Linked DNA regions of Homo sapiens. The protein of the gene in region 2 purifies or fractionates together with the protein of the main gene of each other region. This does not show direct contact. Each region holds a gene or a part of one and is shown on either strand. Other genes may lie near its edges.

Region 1 (3,370 bases), on a different chromosome or scaffold from region 2:
GGGATGCCTTTCATAAAGTACCACATTAAACAAGAATGGGACTCTAACAAATAAGAAAACAATTACTCATACAGAGCATTGCTTTCCAATGAAATGACCCAGTTTTCCCTTCATGCCTCTTTATTAAATTGTGCAAAAAAACCCAACTAAGATTCTTATTTGGGTTCTTATTCTTATTCTTGATTCTTATTTGTTTTCTAGTAATACTATTCCTTCCATTTTGCTCCCTTGCTACATGGCTGAAAAAGAACATGCAACCCACTGAAGACCTCAAGTCAGTGATCTGTAGGCTGTCAGCATTTGGCCCAATTCAGTCAGCCACTGTTTGTGGACGTCAAAGTGCTATAGTGGCATTCAAAGACATGACTTCAGCCTGTAATGCTGTGAGTGCTTTTCAAAGTAGGACCCCAGGCACCATGTTCCAGTGTTCCTGGCAACAACGATTCATGTCAAAAGACGTAAGACTCTCTACTACCAAACACCTGTGTGAATTCTTAAGCTTGTTTTACAAAACTTTTTATTCATCAGAGCTGTAGTGAAATATCATCATTGTAATTGATATTCTAGCACTACAAAAGGCACAATGAAGCTTATTTAGTTCCAGTACTGGAAATCAGAGGTAACAGCACATCCTTCCTTGGACATGCTTTACTCTGCTGTAGTGGTCATCACAGTTTTGATTTTCTGGATAAGAAGTTCACCACAGCATTTGTGCATTCATCTGATAGCCATCTTCCCTGAAGGACATTGCATTCTTCAGCATTAACAGCGTGTAGTTTTTCTCTCTCTCTTTTCCTGATTACCTCTTTTGAAATTCTCAAGGCCTGGAAAAACAAAACCAACAATAAGGTTAAGAGTTGACCTAGGCTGGACGTGGACTCATGCCTGTAATCCCAGCACTTGGGGAGGCCGAGGCGGGCAGATCAGTTGAGGTCAGGAGTTCAAGACCAGCCTGGCCAACATGGTGAAACCCCATCTCTACTAAAAATACAAAAATTAGCTGGTTGTGGTGGTACATGCCTGTGATCCCAGCTACTCAGGAGGCTGAGTCAAGAGAATTGCTTGAACCCGGGAGGCGGAGGTTGCAGTGAGCTGAGATCGCACCATTGCACTCCAGCCTGGGTGACAAGTGAGACTCTGTCTCAAAAAGAAAAAAAGAGTTAATCTAATAGGAGTGAGATTATTCTATGATTCTGGTTCTTGTTTCTCCCATGTTCATTTAATAAATCCTGTTAAATCTTTTTTTTTTTTCTGAGACATAGTCTCACTCTGTCGCCCAGGCTGGAGTGCAGTGGTGCAATCTTGGCTCATTGCAACCTCTGCCTCCCGGGTTCAAGCAATTCTCCCTGCCTCAGCATCCAGAGTAGCTGGGATTACAGGCGCCCACCACCACGCCTGGCTAATTTTTGTATTTTTTAAATAGAGATGTGGTTTTGCCATGTTGGCCAGGCTGTTCTTGAACTCCTGACCTCAGGTGATCTGCCCTTCTTGGCCTCCCAAAGTACTGAGACTACAGGTGTGAGCCACTGTTCTCGGCCCTAATGCTGTTAAATCTTAAGCTGCATGTGTAATATAAGACAGTGCTTCTCAAAATTCAGTGTGCATATAAATCGCTTCAGTAGGTGTGGGGCAGGCCTGTGATAATACATTTCCAAAAAGCCTCAGGTAGCTGCTCAAGCTTCTGGCTCCAGGACTACATTTTGAATAGCAAGAATATAAAAGCAATCAGTCACTCACTACCACATACAAAAACAAAAGTGCTATACAATAAGACTCTCAAAGTAGCTAATCCATGCTTCTCACCTGGATTCCAAAGTAAAAGTGCTCAGCAAATACTGCCTAGCATCCTGCTCAAGTAATCCCCATACAGAATTGCCCTCTGTCCCCACACAGAAATGGAAGGTCTATTTGATAAGTTTTGTAAAAATCAGTACTGCATTTCCAACATTACTACAGTTATTTTTTAATTCCAAATTTAGATGTGCTTAGAGGTAACTAAAGATGTGTCTTGTGCTTTTTATGACTTATTCTCTGAAGGCAAATAAATTTTTCCCTTAGGAAATCATTTTCAAGGTTCTTAGAAGTAAAAGATGAATACTAACATTTGGGGGAAGCTTTGCAAATGCCTTCAGCCTGGTCCAGACTTCTTTCTGAAAAGTGCTATCAGGGAAAACTTCAGTAACAAGTCCTTGAGCACATGCCTCTCCCGCTGTTAACTTCTTTCCAAAAATAAGCATCTCTGTTGCCTGAAATGAAAAGCAAGAAGCAAGGTTAAGATACTAACTTAATAAAACAAGGCTTCAGTTAACTGCTTTCAGGAGGCTTAGAGAGATGTACTCATGGTCTTTTGAGGTTGCTGGTATTTCTCAGTAAGGGAGAAGCTGATGACCTCAATAGGCAACGGTTTGCAAACTGTGTGCTGAGACAGGCTCCTGGGAAGGTCTATAAGGGCTGCTGCTTCTGTGTATCGTTGTTGGAGGGGCAAGATCAGGGGGTCCAGGGCAGAAATGATCTGAAGCAGATGCTTGATTCTATAACCCACAGCAGCTATGATTTTCCATTTGATACACTATAAACTATTATTTTACAGAGGAAAAAAGGAGAGAAAAATTACGGTCATTGGGTCAACCTTTAGAAACTTTCAAAATTCCATTCTCTGGAAACTACCCAGTGATCTGGCTCTGAGAGTTTTCTTTACCTGCATTGGTACTCAAATTAGTTCTATTTGACTAAAGGAAAGCAAAGACTTATAGTTAGCTTCCGAAAAAACTGAGGACATTAAGTGGATATCCTCTCTCCATTTGCAATTTCTTTTCCAGAAAAGGAATGCTCTTCTTTTTTTTGAGACAGAGTCTCACTGTGCTGCCCAGGCTGGAGTGCAGAGGCACGATCTTGGCTCACTGTAACCTCCACCTCCTGGGTTCAAATGATTCTCCTGCCTCAGCCTCTTGAGTAGCTGGGATTACAGGTGCCCGCCACCATGCCCCGGCTAATTTTTGTATTTTTAGTAGAGACAGCATTTCACTATGTTGGCCCGGCTGGTCTTGAACTCCTGATCTCAAGTGATCCACCAGCCTTGGCCTCCCAAAGTGCTGGGATTACAGGTGTGAGCCACTGCACCCAGCCAAGGAATGCTCTAATAGCCAAATGCTCTAAGACTTGTAGAGTCAGTTCTGCCCCCTTCCCAAGTTCAATTCAGGGTATGTGATAGCCTAATGAGAGTAAAAACATACATATATAAGTTTTTAACAAAATCCTAATAGGCAATGAAAACAAGCTCAATTCCCACTGCCCCACTTTGAGATCTTGCAGCAATATTTGCTAAGCCTTTTCCTATAGCTCAGCTTCTGGTCTTGTCACAATCCCCTTC
Region 2 (3,110 bases):
GCATGGATGTGTGTGTAGTTTTTTAAAGATAATTTCAGACATACAGAAGTCTTGCCTAAATATTGCAGAATTCTATATACCCTTTGACCAGCTTTCCTTTATGTTCGTATCTAATGTCACCAAAAAATATTTATCAAAACCAAAACATATACCTTGGTAGAATACTGTTATTAAGTGAACTACAGAACTCATTGACATGAGTTGCACTAGTTTTTCCACTAATGTCCTTTTTCAGTTCCAATATCCAGTCTAGGACTCCATATTCCATTTAGTTGTCGCATCTCCCAAATCTCCTCCAATCTGGGTCAGTTCCTCAGTCTTTCCTTATCTTTCGTGGCCTTGACATTTTTAAAAGTGCAGGTTATTTTATTTATTTACAGTTTTTTTTTTTGTTCTTGTTTTTGTTTTTTTAGAGGCAAGGTCTCGCTCTGTCACCCATGCTAGAGTGCAGTGGTGGGATTATAGCTCACTGCAACCTCAACCTCCTGGGCTCAAGTGATTCTCCCGCCTCAGCCTCCCTAAAATATTTTGTAGAGATGGGGCCTCACTATGGTTGTCCAGCTTGGTCTTGAACTCCCAGACTCAAGCAATCCTCCCGCCCTGGCCTCCAAAAGTGCTAGAATTACAAGTGCGAGCCACCATACCTGGCTTTTTTTTTTTTTTTTTTAAATAAACACTGTTTATTTTTTTGAGATGGGTCTCGCTCTGTCACACAGGCTAAAGTGTAATGGTGACCATAGTTCACTGCAGCCTTGAACTCCTGGGCTCAAGTGATCTTCCCACTTCAGATTCCTGCAGAGCCAGGACTACAGGCACATACCACCATGTCTGGCTCAGGTCAGTGATTTTAGAGAATGACCCTCAATTGAGGCCTACCTAATGTTTTCTCATGACTATTGGGTTGGTGCAAAAATGAATGCGGTTTTTGTCATTACTTTTAATTGTTTTGCCATTACTTTTAATTGTTTAAGGTTACACATTATTGGGAAGAATACCATAAAAGCCATGTGTCCTTCCCAGTGTCTCAGCTATCTGATGTCTGTATGGAGTACTTCTGACGTTCACCTTGATCACTTGGCTGAGGTGGTATCTGCCAGGCCTCTCCAAGGTAGACTTAGTATTTTCCTTTCTTTTTTTTTAATTAAAAAAAATTTTTTTAAATAAAAATAGAGGCAGAGTCTCACTATGTTGCCCAGGCTGGTCTCGAACTCCCATTTCAAGTGATCCTCTTGCCTCAGCCTCCGGAAGTGTTGGGATTACTGGCACGAGCTACCACACCAGGCCTAGACTTATGGCTCTAAATATTACTTACGGCTCCAATATTTCCTCTTTGTAAGTACTAAATATTTAGAGGAAATATACTAAAGTTATGCAAATACAATTTTACTTGTATACTAGGATGGAACAGATAAGTAAACATATTGTAGACAACAAGAGCAAGGTTTTTCACTACAGGAGAAAGAAGAAACAAGGAGAGTTAGACTGGACTGGAGTTGGAGGTTTCTAGATGAACTCATGTTTTTTTCTTTTTGACAGCTAAACAGACTGTTTTTTAAAAACCTGAATGTTACCAAAATTTAAAAATTGATCGATTTAACGGCCACATGTATTTTTTTAAAAAAGCTTTACATGTCTTGTGAAAATATTAGAATACCAGCCAACGTTAGGCCCATCCTCCTTCATGGCCACAGTCTGCAGCAGCTGAGTCGAGTGCGCTTCAGTTTAGACCCCTCCCCTCCCCTCCCTGTTGTCTTCTCATTCATTTGCTTTATCTTTCCAGCCTCTGTTGGCTTTTGAGTCTGTGACGCTTTGACTAATCCAACTCCTCAATTTCACAGATCAAACCAGATTAGATTAGTAGCAGAGAAGGGACCAGAGCCCAGATCTCTTTCCTCCCAGTCCAGCATCCGTCCCTCTCCACCATCAGGAGAACAGCCTGCAAACCTTCGCTAGCTCACTCATAATGCCCACCATTTTCCCAGACAGAGGGTGCACTGGGGCTGGCCACAAGCACTCATGGGGTGGGACTGAGGTTCTGGCAAGTGGGAGGGCGGGAGGGGGCCAAAGAGCTGGTTACCAAGGAGGTTTCCTGAGTGGTTGGAGAAGAGGGGTCCCCCACTGGAGCCGCTGTGCACAGCACACGTGGTCTGCAGCATTACGGGCGTGCCATTCACCTGCACCACAGCCGAAAGGATGCCTGAGGTCACCGAGGGCCCGCAAGACTGGCCAAAGACGCCAAAGCCCACCACACTCACAGCCTCGCCTGCCAGGGAAGGAAGGAGGGTGAAGCTGGGGACACCTGTGTTACAGCAGGACTCACACTCCCTAACTCCCATCCCTACCCTCTCCAAACATTCCAAACCTCTCCACCCTTCAAGTTTCTGCTCAGATACTCCTGCCTCCAGAGAGCCTTCCCCATGTCCCCTGGCTGGAAGAGGCTGAGAACTCCACTGAGCTCCTAGCACTGTATCTGCATGACCACTTCTGAGCAACAGGCTGTTCCCTAGTCCTTGTTCCCTGGACAGGCGGGGCAGTGACTTTTAGGAGTTCCTAACACCTACCTACATGCTCAATAAATGTTTGTGGAATTCACACCCATCTCCTCCTGGAACTCCTAAGAAGTCTCTTCGTGAAAAGAAATGGTGATGATGGCTATAATGCAGCCATGACCTTCCTTTTCCAAGTGCAGGGTATGGGGGTAAGTGCTTTACAGGCAACGTCACACCCAGCCCTCACAACACCCAGAAATAGGATGCATTAGCCCCATTTCAAAGACGTGGAAAATGAGGCAGAGGATAGTTAACTAGCCTGTCCAAGGACATGGGACTAATAGGTGGCATAGGAAAGATGCCCATCCAGAGCCCCTGGACCCTTCATCACTGTATCACACTGCCTCCATGGAGTGCAACATCAGTACTTATGTGGCAGCATCACAAAGCCTTTTACCCAAATCGTGCCCCTGGAGCCTTGAAAGTGCCACATGCCTCTCTGACCAGCCTGAAGTGTTAAGGAACCCCAAAGGCCCAGCATCCTCACACTACATTGCTGCAGGCACTCGGGGAAAGGGCGTGCAGCATTATCCTTCCCAGGGCACTCCATGTGCCCCACCA
Region 3 (3,500 bases), on a different chromosome or scaffold from region 2:
TTGTGAGGATTCAAATATAAGAAAGGGATTATTCTTGGTAGAGTTAACAAAATTGTACCAAATGACTTTTTGTGTTAAACACGATTCATTCACCCAACCCTAGAAAGGAGCCTGAATGAAGTCTAATTTGGGTGACAGATTCCCACACAAATTAGATGTATGTCATTCAGGTATAGAGAATTGATTTTATATTAGAAAAAACAAACCTTGTAAACAGTTTTATAAATAACTGTTTCATGATTTTCCTTAAGTAGTACTGATCTCTTACATATAGATCGTTTGTGTCTTTCGCCTCAAGTTAGTATAGAACAGGGCAAGTGGCAAAGCTCGAGGAAAGTGTGACCTGAGGTACATGCTGTCAGCTTGATGCTGGAGTTTGGCCTCTCAAATCTCTAACCTGTTAAATGAAGTTAATTAGGATTAATTTTTTTTAATGTATGTTTACTACTGAAAATAAGTGCTCGGCCAGACGCAGAGGCTCACGCCTGTAATCCCAGCACTTTGGGAGGCCGAGGCTGGCAGATCACCTGAAGTCAGGAGTTTGAGACCAGCCTGGCCAACATGGCGAAACACTGTCTCTATTAAAAATACAAAAATTAGCTGGGTGTGGTGATACATGCCTGTAATCCCAGCTACTCGGAGCCTGAGGCAGGAGAACTGCTTGAACCCAGGAGGCGGAGGTTGCATTGAGCCAAGATTGTGCCATTGCACTCCAGCCCAGGCGACAGAGTGAGACTCATGTCTCAAAAAAAAAAAAAAAAAAAAGAGGAAAAGAAGTGCCCAATAGCTTCAATGGATGCCACATAATTTTGGAATAATTTTTACAATCAGGAATTTCATTGTCCAAGCCCCTTAGAAAAAGAAGCAACCCAGCCCCATACCCAGAAAGTCAAGCTGTATAGTGCTGTTCCTTAGTGAGACGGTCAACTCTCAGTAGAAAAATCTCCTGTTTGGATTAGTGCTTAGTTGACCTATTGTGTTCAGTTCCTCTAACATGAGTAACTTCTATTGGATAGGAAATTTTGAAGCTCAAAGGGTGTAATGAGAGTTAACATTACTGATTTTCCACTGTTACTTTTTAGTGTTTTCATAACTTGGATGTGTTAACCTATGGCCCATCAACTATGCTCCTAGTCTCAGGTGACAACATGTTCAATTTAAGATGGCAGGCAGTACAGTGGACCTCTCTCATCCCATGGGAAGGAACCCAGGATGTTTATTATGTAGTATTGTATAGTCTCTGCAGCAGTAATAGAGAAAGTTAAAGGTAAGCGGTGGAGAAGTAAAATCTAGAGTTTCTAATATAACCCTTCTCACTTTTCTTTTCAAAAAAAATAAGAGGGTCTCACCATGTTGCCCACACTGGTCTCTATCGAACTCCTGGGCTCAAGCGATCCTGTCGTCTCAGCCTCCCAAAGTGCTAGGATTACAGGCATGAGCCACTCTGCATGGCCAAGCTCACTCTTCTTAAAGGTCTGCTAGTAAGAGGGTTTCTACTTTTTGAAACAAATTCATGATTACCTAAAATGAAGCTAGGTTATGAAGTATATATAAATATGCAGCCCAATAGGCTGGGTGTGGTGGCTCACACCTGTAATCCCAGCACTTTGGGAGGCTGAGGCAGGCAGATCACTTGAGGTCAGGAGTTTGAGACCAGTCTGGCCAACATGGTGAGACCACATCTCTACAAAAAATACAAAAATTAGCGGGTGTGGTGGCCTGTGTGCGCCCATAGTACCAGCCACTTGGGAGGCAGAGGCAGGAGAATCACTTGAAGCCAGGAGGCAGAGTTTTCAGTGAGCTGAAATTGTGTCACTGTACTTCAAGCCTGGGCAATGGAGTGAGACTGTCTCAAAATATATATATATTTGCAGCCCAATAAAGATACTTAGATAAAACTATTGGGTTTATTCCTTGAAAACTAGGGCATGTGTAGCTAGATCTGGCTCATAAAAAGCAAAGTTATTTACATATATTTTAAGGTAAAATTGCCTCTGATAAATGTCAAAGAGGAAGTTTAGGTCTTTCTTCTGGCAGAAAGCCAGAGAGTAAGTGCTGAATGTGACGCAGAATCATGTTAGGTAACAAGGACTTTGAGGTAAGTGGCTGAAGTCTTCTGTGGAGTCAGCCGACTCTTGCAGGATTGTGTGGTATCAGTCACCTTTAGCATTTGCCAACCCAACTCTGATCATTCTTCTTCTTTCAAGGTATCTCAGCGTTTGAGTCAGCCAGGAGTAGCAATAGGTTTGGCTTGGACTCCCTTAGGTGGAGAAATCATGTTCGTGGAGGCGAGTCGAATGGATGGCGAGGGCCAGTTAACTCTGACCGGCCAGCTCGGGGACGTGATGAAGGAGTCCGCCCACCTCGCTATCAGCTGGCTCCGCAGCAACGCAAAGAAGTACCAGCTGACCAATGGTAGGAGCCTGCACCCGGCCAGGCAGGCGTGACCCAGGAGGCGGTACCTTCCATGGCGGAGACTGGCATGAGCTCGAGACTGCCAGTTACACATCTAGCAAAGTACACACCGTTTTGAACCCCTGTGGAAATCCTAGTTCCCATTTCAGGACTATTTGACTAGTGCCTGAACTAGAAACTAATTCAAAAGGTTTATTTTGTTTTAATACGACTTAGAGTAGAATGGAACTGTTCTTCCACACCCTCACCCAAATTGTACTGTCCACCAATATTTTGAAGAATTCATTTACCCAAAACATTCATTTTTGTTTGTGACTTTTTTTTTAGGAGAAAAAGAAAACAGGTTTAATTTTTCTACATTAAAGTCCCTTTTTCCTTTTTAAAGCTTTTGGAAGTTTTGATCTTCTTGACAACACAGACATCCATCTGCACTTCCCAGCTGGAGCTGTCACAAAAGATGGACCATCTGCTGGAGTTACCATAGTAACCTGTCTCGCCTCACTTTTTAGTGGGCGGCTGGTACGTTCAGATGTAGCCATGACTGGAGAAATTACACTGAGAGGTCTTGTTCTTCCAGTAAGTATGAAAAAACAATTTATATGGTTATTTTTTATTTAATTTTTGAAAATTAATATTATTTTTAAATACGGGTTTGCCTTCTTTCTATGAAAACCTTGGTTTTAAGTATATATTATATTTTTATGCCTGTAACTAATTCATATTTTAAAATTTTGATCAAATAAAAGAAAAACTGACAATTTTTCACATTTTCCTTTTTTTTTTTTTTTTTTTTTTGAAATAGACAGGTCTCACTCTGTTGCCCAGGCTGGAGTGCAGTGGTGTGACTGTAGCTCACTATAGCCACCAAGTCCTGGGCTCAAGCGATCCTCCTGTCTATCTCCCGAATAGCTGGGACTATAGGAGCACGCCACCATGCTCAGCTAATTTATTTTATTTTGCGTAGAGACAGGGTCTCTCTGTGTTGTCCAGGCTTGTCTCAAACTCCAGGTCTCATGCAGTCCTCTCATCTCCACCTCCCAAAGTGCTGGGATTACAGGCGTGAGCCACCACATTCAGCCCACGTT
Region 4 (3,500 bases), on a different chromosome or scaffold from region 2:
GTTGTTGATGTATATTTTTTAAGTACCTCAGGAATTAAAGTATGTGTGCAGTGCCTTACATTTACGCAGATGAGGATATGTTTGTAGCCTTCTGGAGAGAACTAGAGAAGCCAACTTTTTAAAAATGGAAATTTGGAAATCCTTTGTGTGTGTGTTAAGGAAAGAAAAGTAAGAAGGAAAAAGAAAGTGAGCAACTGGGATTCAGGCAAGAATATCTGCTGTCATAATAATAATTTAAGTGACAGAGCAAGCTGCTGATAGGAGATGGTTATTATCCTGATAATATTGAATCTTCAGGTGGCATATGAAGTGAGTTTCCATAGTCCCTGAAAAGGAATATAGCAATAGAAAAATATGTTTCAGAGACTGAGATGATCTAATGAGCGATACTGATAGAGTATATTCCACGGTATCATTGGAGTTAGCCAGCCAGTGAGCTTACCTTCTGGAGGCTATTGAAATTAAAACTCCTAGGTTAAGTTAGTTTTTCTCAGGAGCCAGAAATGAAATTTAAAAACAAAATTTAAGCATATTAAATATTTTGCTCATCGGCTTTGTGAAAAGTTGAGATTACCAGCCCGGTTACCTGGTTCTAGCTGAACTCTAACAGGCTTGTTTATACATTATTTACTAATGTTTAGAATCTGAAATCCAAAATCACTTCTCCTCTTTTTCAATCATTATTTTCTTTGGTACAGGACTTGTTTACACTGGGCATGTAAACGAAACCATGGTCAGGTGGTCTCTTACCTGTTAAAATCAGGAGCTGACAAAGAAATTCTTACCACAAAAGGAGAAATGCCAGTCCAGTTAACATCAAGGAGAGAAATCAGGAAGATTATGGGAGGTGAGTCTGTGTTTGGGGGAACTTTTGATTTCCTCAGACTCATTGAAGACTTGTGGTATTATTGGCTACGTTCTTAATGCTGGTCAAACAACTGCTCTATTTCTTTCTTTTTTTTTTTTTTTCCGAGACGGAGTTTAGCTCTTGTTGCCCAGGCTGGAGTGCAGTGGCGTGATCTCGGCTCACCACAACCTCTGCCTCCCAGGTTCAAGTGATTCTCCTGCCTCAGCCTCCCAAGTAGCTAGGATTACAGGCATGTGCCACCACGTCTCGCTAATTTTGTATTTTTAGTAGAGACGGGGTTTCACCATGTTGGTCAGGCTGGTCTCAAACTCCCGACCTCAGGTGATCCGCCAGCCTCAGCCTCCCAAAGTGCTGGGATTACAGGCATGAGGCACCGCTCCCGGCAACTGTTCTATTTCTAAAAGCAAATTACTGTGCCAAGATAGTAATTCCAGATTGTTTCTGGGGAGGTCAGCATTGTAAGGTTTTATTTTTTTATTTGTAAAATTTAAGATAATGATAAAAATGGTAATCATAAACCTAATGAAGTATTCTTTTTTCTTCTGACCTGACACTGACCAATGTCACATACCAAAAGACACCACTTTCAAAAGACACCTTGTTTTGATAATTTTGAAAGGACTGTGTAAATGTTCTGTTTTCTTCTTTTTAAGTGGAAGAAGAAGATGATGATGATGATGATGATGACAACCTCCCCCAGCTGAAGAAGGAGTCAGAACTGCCCTTTGTTCCCAACTATTTGGCCAACCCAGCCTTCCCTTTTATCTATACACCCACAGCAGAGGATTCAGCCCAGATGCAGAATGGGGGCCCCTCCACACCCCCTGCATCACCCCCTGCAGATGGCTCACCTCCATTGCTTCCCCCTGGGGAACCTCCCCTGTTAGGGACCTTTCCCCGGGACCACACCTCTTTGGCACTAGTTCAGAATGGTGATGTGTCGGCCCCCTCTGCCATACTCAGAACACCAGAAAGCACAAAACCGGGTCCTGTTTGTCAGCCACCAGTGAGTCAGAGCCGCTCCCTGTTTTCTTCTGTCCCGTCCAAGCCACCAATGTCTCTGGAGCCTCAAAATGGGACGTATGCAGGACCAGCGCCAGCATTCCAGCCATTTTTCTTCACTGGAGCATTTCCATTTAATATGCAAGGTAACCCCTCATCAGCAAACAGCCTCTGCAACAGGGGAGTTGGTGTCCAGAGGGGTGGGATTTAATGAGGTATTCTGGGTATAATTGCAAACTTACAGAAACGTTACATGACTAACATAAGGAACTCCCTTTACTCAAATTCACAAATTGTTTACCTTTTGCCCTTTTACCCTGATACCCTTCAGTATTCTTTCCATTATATCTTTCCTAAGAACAAGGATATTCTCTCTTTTTTTTATTGAGACGTAGCTTCGCCCTGTCACCCAGGCTGGAGTACAGTGGTGTGATCTTGGCTCACTGCAACCTCCGCCTCCCAGGTTCAAGTGATTCTTCTGCCTCAGCCTCCCAAGTAGCTGAGATTACAGGAGCATGCCACCACGCCTGGCTAATTTTTTTTTTTTTTTTTTTTTTTTGTATTTTTAGTAGAGATGGGGTTTCACCATGTTGGCCAGGCTGGTCTCAAACTCCTGACCTTAAGTGATCTGCCTGCCTCAGCCTCCCAAAGTGCTGAGATTATAGGTGTGAATCACCGCACCCAGCTGGATATTCTCTTATATAACTACAGTACAAATGACCAAATTTGAGAAATGTAATCTTGAGCTAATGCTGTTCTGTAATCCATAGACCATGTTTAAATTTTGTCAGTTGTCTCAAACATTGCCTTTTGTATTCCCTCATCTACTATACGTACTGTCTGTACTATTACAGAAATAGTACTATCTGTACTATTGATATCTATCTGGACTATCTGTACTCCTCTGCCCCCTGCATCCTGCCCAGGATCATATGTTGCATGTAGTTATCACGTTGTTTTAGTTTCCTTTAATCTGGAATCTTTACCCTTTATCATTTTTGATCTTGATCTTTTTGAAGAGTCCAGGCCAATTATTTTTGTGGGATATGATTTTCTATCATTCTTTCTCTACTTATTAGTTGGTATTTTACTGTAAAGAAGGGCTTTCCCTTCTCCTTCATTCATATCAGTATTGACTCATATATTCTTATTTTATTCAGTGGGTTATAATCTGTTACTATCATTTTTTAATTATTCAAATTATCCCAGATTTGGCCAGTGGGAGCCCCTTGAAGCTAGTTCTTATGTCCCTTGCATGTGTCTTCATTGTTCTTGGAGCACTGCCTTACTTTCTGGGGCAGCAAGATGTTCCGGGCTTATAGCATAACTTTTCCTGCCCCAACCCTGGAATCAGTCATTTCTCCAAGAAGCCCTGGTTCTTTTTGGTGGAGAATGGTATTTAGGGCACACAGCAAACTTGCCTCCCACTTGGGCCCACCGAGAATGGTATTCAGACACCAGGATGTGGTCACTAGGTGTCCTCATTGCTACAGGTATATCATTTCTTCTAGGCCCGTTGAGAGGACATAGCCAGGAAAGATATCAATATTTCTCTATGTATAACTTTTTAAAAATATTAAAAACCACAAGTTCATCCTGATTCTTCCAAATCCAGTCAAATGCCATAGGG
Region 5 (3,035 bases), on a different chromosome or scaffold from region 2:
ACTTACCTTCTCAACTGAGGTAAAAAAAAAGGTAATGCTTTAAGCATGCTCCCATTTCATTGTACACCATTTTCACTGTGGCACAATACATTTTTTAACAAACCTGGAAAAAGCAGGTGATGTATGCTAATAAATAGAATCCACAAAGAATTATTAGCGTGGTTACCCTGATTAAAAATTAGATGAGAAAAAATTACAGCCAACATTTTAAACACAGAACACCAGTATGAGAAGCACACATTAAGGTAGCATGAAGTATTTTACAATAAAAAATTAGCTCACATTCCTATTGGCAATTGAATATCAAATATTGATAATTTTACCTATCTTGCACCAGGATTCTACCTTTAACACCGTAGTTTTTAGAGCCCAGTCTTCACCTTAAAAAACAACTGAATTAGTTCAATGTGTTTTACAGTACTTCTCAGTCTGTACATTATTTGTTAAAGTTTGGCAAAACTTGTGAGTATTAACACTGTAATAACATAGAAGCCATCAAACCATGTTTCATAGTTTTATTGAGTCTTTTTCAGTTTTAACTGTCCATGGTAAGTACAGTTCTAGTGACCACAATTATGAAGCTCTGCTCGTACTAAAAATAGCAGATACAAAGTTGGCTGCCATGCCTTACACACACTAAGACACACACACACACACACACACACACACACACACAAGGTTTTGCATACTCTTACATGCAAACAGTACTATGCTATTATAGGAAATGTACTTTCCTTTTATTAAAAATACAATTACACACAATTAGTCTGGGTTTTGTTAAGCTACCACTGATTTAGATAAACCTGAGAAAGCTCAAAATATCAAGTAACACTGTTTCCATACTGCTCATTCAATGGCACTATCACTCAAAAAGAAATCTAGTTCAATCATCTATATTAAAATCACAGATAATATAAAAATAAACATTTTTTGCAATAGCACTAAAACATACTATAATTCAAATTCACAAATTTTGATATGTAACATATATTCACCTTCATATTAATTTGTGATTATGTGTATAATACAATGTACAACAGAATAAAAAACTCTAACAGAATTCAGCAGCCAAATAATATACAATTATCACTATGAAACTTGGAATTTAAGTTATCAACTAAACAAAAAAAAACAGATTAAAATCAATAGCAGTGTTGAACTCGCTGGTAGTGTGTTACTTTAAAATTCCATCTCAAAACAGTTAAGATTATGCTATCTCACCTTAAGAAGAAGCAACACAAAAAATTAAGTAGAACTAAGCAGCAGTAACCGATTATACCAGCTGCCTTTTTCTCTCCCCATCTCCTTAAAGATTTTCCTTACATTGTAACGTTGTTTATATAATGCCCATCCCACTTGACTGCTAAAACATGACAGATCAACTTTAAATGTAGGACAAGACTTTTGCATTTGGAAAGGGAAGCTTTGATCATATTTAGTGACAATACTCTAAACCTCCTGAAAAGACAACAAAAACTTTTATTTAATATATAAAATGTAGACAATACAGACCCCATTTGGCTAAGATATTTTATATTCACTATCGATCTTATGATAGTCTGACACCAAATTGTGTCTATATAGAAAAAAACTTAAATAAAAAGGCAAACATGCAAAAGCACTACTAGGGAAAATTAATCACTTGTATCATGAAACATTTTCATATTTTAGACCAAAAAATGTGAAGACTTAAATATTCCAAGACACTGATATTTGAAAAGCACTGTAATATACAACTCTTATTTATGTATGCATTATATATTTTGTAAAATACACCAGTTTGACACATTAATATCATACATTGTAATAAATATAATTTACATTAGTATGTTGGATCTTTCATGAAAGTTTTTCAGTCTGTACAACTGAAGGACTGTGAGCTTCTTCAATAAATACTTTTACAATAGCTACAACCTGACCAGCAAAGTTTAAGCTTCAATAGATACTAACTAGTATTACATCTTTAAACATTGTCACTAGCCAAATTCCAGCTGCTATAAGCACTGACATCTATAGTATCCAAAGACAGTTTAGTGTCTTGTCTGAGTAGATTGAGACAATTTACAGGTGACAGGTCCACATCATAATCTGTGAAACTTCCAAGATTTTTTTAGCCAAGGAGTGGAATGAAGTCCTGGAAAATACAGTAGCAGATTTCACAGGCTCCTGGCTGTTTAGTTTTCATGCTTTACCATATCCCCCAAGGCCCCAACAATGGATGTCATCCAACTTTTAAATCCATGTGTGTTCTTGAAAGGGTCAACAGTCACATAGCTGGCTGAGCGGCAACATCATGGTTTTAACTCTGAATTCCAACTTGCATGCTGTATTTCTTCTTAGTTTGTCTTTTTGTCATTTCAATGTAAACACAAATTGATGTTCAAAGAGTCAAAGATGCTGATTTGTAAGCAATAAAACACCTTGAATTTGCCATTAAAATATTTTTTGTGGTGTGAAATTTTGTTAGGTAATAAGTTCTATAATGTTAGCAGTTTTTTATCCAAATGCCAACACATTTCTGCCCTTACAATAAACATACTTCAATCATCATATGACCTGATCAGTTTTTCAGCCAATAGAGATCACTGCTTCACCCTGACCCTCTGTACGTTTTCACCATTGGCACACCTTCCCAGAGGCTTCTTTTGGCTTGGAAGGAGTTGGCAAGATCATTCTTGTTACTATGTGGCATGCATTCACATGTCATCAGTGTCCATATGTGATGTATGAAGCTAAAGAAGAAACACTTTGGAAAAAACATGCCAAGTAGTAAACAAGCATTTCTAGTTACTGTTCACCTCCTCACTGGATCCACACTCACAAAATTCTCTGGACGCTGAAACAATGTACTTAACACATACTCTAAATTAAGCTGAGCATCCTGAGACCTAAAAGAAAGAAAACTAAATGGTGAAGAAATATTGTAAAAATGTGTATCATTAGGCTACAAGTTCAAGTCTGGTACAAGTCCTGTAATTTCCATCTTGGTCAGTTTAATGATATTGATCTTGTTTAACAAGGTCAATAAAGTAATG
Region 6 (3,500 bases), on a different chromosome or scaffold from region 2:
GCTTTTCCAAAAAAGTTGCTCATCATATTCCCTTTCCCTGGTGCCTTGTTGCCTGCTGCAGATGCCTACAAGCACAGAAAACACATATGATTTTTTGCTGGCATTTAGGCTGTTCATGAAGTAGCAGTCTCAAACAAACTCTTCTATAGCAAACTGTTGCGATGGTATAGTCTCTATATAATCATGCCAAAACGCGTAGGTGTTAGATATAAGAACAAATCTAGAACAATAATCCACACCAGACAGTAACTGGTGTTAATCTCTAAAGCTTAGTTTCTTATATATCTTATAAAATTAATTATCCATGGATATAGCTAAACTTTTCTTGAGCACATTTAAAAACTATTTAATTTGACAGAATTAAAAAAGATCAGAGGCAGTATGTACACAAAGCGGGAAAACCTAAAACATTACATTTTTAATCATCAGAAGTAGATCTGAATTCCTGGTTCCCACCATTTAGTAGCAATATGGGCTCCAGGCAAATTACTTAAGTCTAGGTTTCAGTTTTACCATATGCGAAAGGGAAATAGTTAATATCTCCCTCACAGAACTGATAAGAGGATTTAAACAAAGACACTGGCACACAGTTGAAATTCAATAAACGTTAGTGTTTTCCTCCATCCTTCTTCTTTCCCAAGACAGACGCTTGAAAATGACAGTGATCTGAATTAAATACACTTGACACTGGAAAATGACAGTGATAATAATAATAGTAACAACAATAATTATGCTTTTCTGGATTTTTAAAATAGTATCTTAATGATACTTTTCTTAAGTCAATGCCCTTGAGTTAGTTCAGATGACTGAACAATAAAAATCTAAGAGAAGCAAATAAGGCAAAAACAAAACAAAAAAACCTGCATAAAGTATAAGAATGGGAAATACACTAGGAAGGAAGGTATATGTTGCAAAGCCCAGAATATAAGATGTTCCTCAGAAAGACATATTGCAAATAAACATTTTTTTGAATGTCAACAATTCTCGAGGTGTTTTCACATGTTTTCATCTGGGTTTCACAACAATCTTGTAATGTGCACAAGGTAGGCATTACCATTTTGCAAAGGAAATCCAAGGTTTGGTGAGAATCATTATCAAAAGCAAAAGAACTCTTTCAGATAACAATATCAAGTATTAAAGGGTTCAAACTAAAGTAGAAAAATCAGAACTGAATATCAGAATCTTATATAAATAAACTACTACCACTGCAACCATTAATGCTTTTCTAGTTACCCACTCTGAGCTGCAATGAAGGGGTATCTTCAAAGAAGACTTACATTTGTTACTTCTTTAGCCTCTGTTTTCGTTTCCTTGTTGGTTTCTTGGGTTTTAGCAGCAGCTTTGGAGGCAAACATTCCCATAATTCCTTTGGGCTGCTGGGAAACCTGCTTGGATGCAGGTGGGCCATGACCATTGGTGGTCAGCTCATTGTTGGCTTGTGTCTCACTTGACATGTGAAGATGTGACTGCTCAAACTTTTTGGAAGACGAAGAGGATTCAGCAGGAGCTCTAGGGACGGCAGCTGCACATTGTATAGCACTAAATCTGGGGACAGAAATGTTACATTAAGTTAATGTCAGCATATGCATTCTTGGGTGGTTCAACAAAAAAAGAAAAAAAAAACTAATGTCAGTATAAAACTTTATTTTCAAACTCTTGCTTCTTCCACACAATACTTAACTCTAATATTGTTTAGAATCGACTTTAGAAAAATGTATGAAACTCTCTATTACATAAAGAAACAAATATTAGAGAGAAGTGAGTCACTTTTACTAGGTTATACATCTAGTTAGTAATAGATAGGATTGGAATTAGGTGCCTTCTACCACTAATTGAATATTCTTGTTTTTGATAAAAGTATTCTAATTCAAAAGAGTAGGAATGCAACCAACAATAATAAAAGATGCAGTAATTTCATTATCCTTGGGAAATGAAATAGCCTTTGTTTTTAAAGACCTTCCTCTGATAGGGCTAGATTTGCAATATTGACTGAATCAAAACTAAGCTTTAAATATTAACAAATTTCCTGGCAACTCTCTTGGCCAGAGTAAATCATGCTGTAGGGTTGGGCGCATTGGCTCACGCTTGTAATCCCAGCGGTTTGGGAACCTGAGGCGGGCGGATCGCTTAAGCCTAGGAATTTAAGATGGGCCTGGGCAACATGGTGAAACCTTGTCTCTACAAAAAATACAAAAATTAGTTGGGTGTAGTGGCGCATGCCTATAGCCCTGATTACTCAGGAGGCTGAGGTAGGAGGATCACCTGAATCCAGGAGGTCAAGGCTGCAGTGAGCCATGAGCTCATCACTCAACTCCAGCCTAGGAACAGAGTGAGATGCTGTCTCAAAATAAATAAATAAATCATGCTTTAAAACAAAGAAGAGGCCAGGTGCAGTGGCTCACGCCTGTAATCCCAGCACTTTGGGAGGCCAAGGCAGGTGGATCATGAGGTCAGGAGTTCAAGACCAGCCTGGCCAACATGGTGAAACCCCGTCTCTACTGAAAATACAAAAATTAGCTGGGCGTGGTGGCACGCGCCTGTAGTCCCAGCTACTCAGGAGGCTGAGGCAAGAGAATTGCTTGAACCCAGGAGGCAGAGGTTGCAGTGAGCCAAGATCACACTACTGCGCTCCAGCCTAGGCGACACAGCAATACTCTGTCTCAAAATGAAAAACAAAAAAAAATGGGAGAAGCTGGAAGCAGAGCCACTGGCTCCTATAACCTATAGTCCTTTACAGCCATTTGTTAATAATTTCTAATAATACTAACAGCACCGGACAAGTAAGTATGCCCAAGGCCAAGAGAAGAAAATTGGTGGAACAGCTTGTGTGGCATATTAAAGGGAACATACATCTCTCTCTAATCATTATAGAAGTGCCGTTTCACACAAATCCATAATGTAACATTCCACATTGTGAATGGGTAATTGATTTAGCCTTCTCAAAGGATTGTACTTAAAGCAAAGTTCCCCAGCTTTTTCTAACAAAGAAAAATATTTTATTTTTCCCAGTCTTGCTTATTGAGCATATGTAAGACCTCCTTGAAGTCTTATTTATCTTTTTTATTTCAGGCACCCAGCTCAAGACCTGGCACATAGAAAAGTGCTGGAAACGACATGTTGAAAGAATGACTAAGTGAATGAAAGTGAGGCTTCTGGCTTCTCTCCCTTCTTTAGTGTATCACCTTCAACTTGGGGTGGGAGATTTCTAAACTATGTGGTGATGGCAATTATCTTAAAAGATCAACCAGGCACAACTTCAAGATTAACTGCTAGAATACCTGGCCTAATGAAAAAAAAAAATCCCTGATACATCATTTCATCTCAGAAGTAACTTTAGACTGGGCAGCCCCAAAGCTAGAGTCAAAAGCTCCAAAAATCTTCCACTGATTTATTATGGTCTTCATCAGAAAACTCTGTATTTACACACATCTTTTATGCATCAGAGTTAAGAACAGACGGAAATCATTTGCTTTCACCCACTGCTCTTCCTCTCTGACCTT

The links.
Region 1: the proteins of TYSND1 (region 2) and ECI2 purify together in Homo sapiens (co-immunoprecipitation; one study listed by IntAct). This does not show direct contact.
Region 3: the proteins of TYSND1 (region 2) and LONP2 purify together in Homo sapiens (co-immunoprecipitation; one study listed by IntAct). This does not show direct contact.
Region 4: the proteins of TYSND1 (region 2) and ANKRD40 purify together in Homo sapiens (affinity purification with mass spectrometry; 2 studies listed by BioGRID and IntAct, with this or other methods). This does not show direct contact.
Region 5: the proteins of TYSND1 (region 2) and P2RY1 purify together in Homo sapiens (co-immunoprecipitation; one large-scale study listed by IntAct). This does not show direct contact.
Region 6: the proteins of TYSND1 (region 2) and POLD3 purify together in Homo sapiens (tandem affinity purification; one large-scale study listed by IntAct). This does not show direct contact.

What each region holds. Positions count from the first base shown.
Region 1 is NC_000006.12:4,115,206-4,118,575, forward strand, and holds the end of ECI2 (enoyl-CoA delta isomerase 2), read right to left. Parts: intron 2,247-3,370; coding exon 2,103-2,246; intron 825-2,102; coding exon 669-824; 3' UTR 501-668; downstream 1-500. UniProt on the Homo sapiens protein: Able to isomerize both 3-cis and 3-trans double bonds into the 2-trans form in a range of enoyl-CoA species. Has a preference for 3-trans substrates.
Region 2 is NC_000010.11:70,140,591-70,143,700, forward strand, and holds part of TYSND1 (peroxisomal leader peptide-processing protease), read right to left. Parts: intron 2,264-3,110; coding exon 2,078-2,263; intron 1-2,077. UniProt on the Homo sapiens protein: Peroxisomal protease that mediates both the removal of the leader peptide from proteins containing a PTS2 target sequence and processes several PTS1-containing proteins.
Region 3 is NC_000016.10:48,345,300-48,348,799, forward strand, and holds part of LONP2 (lon protease homolog 2, peroxisomal), read left to right. Parts: exon of another isoform or gene 1-1,612; intron 1,613-2,207; coding exon 2,208-2,415; intron 2,416-2,800; coding exon 2,801-2,991; intron 2,992-3,500. UniProt on the Homo sapiens protein: ATP-dependent serine protease that mediates the selective degradation of misfolded and unassembled polypeptides in the peroxisomal matrix.
Region 4 is NC_000017.11:50,697,915-50,701,414, reverse strand, and holds part of ANKRD40 (ankyrin repeat domain-containing protein 40), read left to right. Parts: intron 1-698; coding exon 699-847; intron 848-1,521; coding exon 1,522-2,016; intron 2,017-3,500.
Region 5 is NC_000003.12:152,838,905-152,841,939, reverse strand, and holds the end of P2RY1 (P2Y purinoceptor 1), read right to left. Parts: 3' UTR 501-3,035; downstream 1-500. UniProt on the Homo sapiens protein: Receptor for extracellular adenine nucleotides such as ADP. In platelets, binding to ADP leads to mobilization of intracellular calcium ions via activation of phospholipase C, a change in platelet shape, and ultimately platelet aggregation.
Region 6 is NC_000011.10:74,616,582-74,620,081, reverse strand, and holds part of POLD3 (DNA polymerase delta subunit 3), read right to left. Parts: intron 1,546-3,500; coding exon 1,278-1,545; intron 66-1,277; coding exon 1-65. UniProt on the Homo sapiens protein: Accessory component of both the DNA polymerase delta complex and the DNA polymerase zeta complex.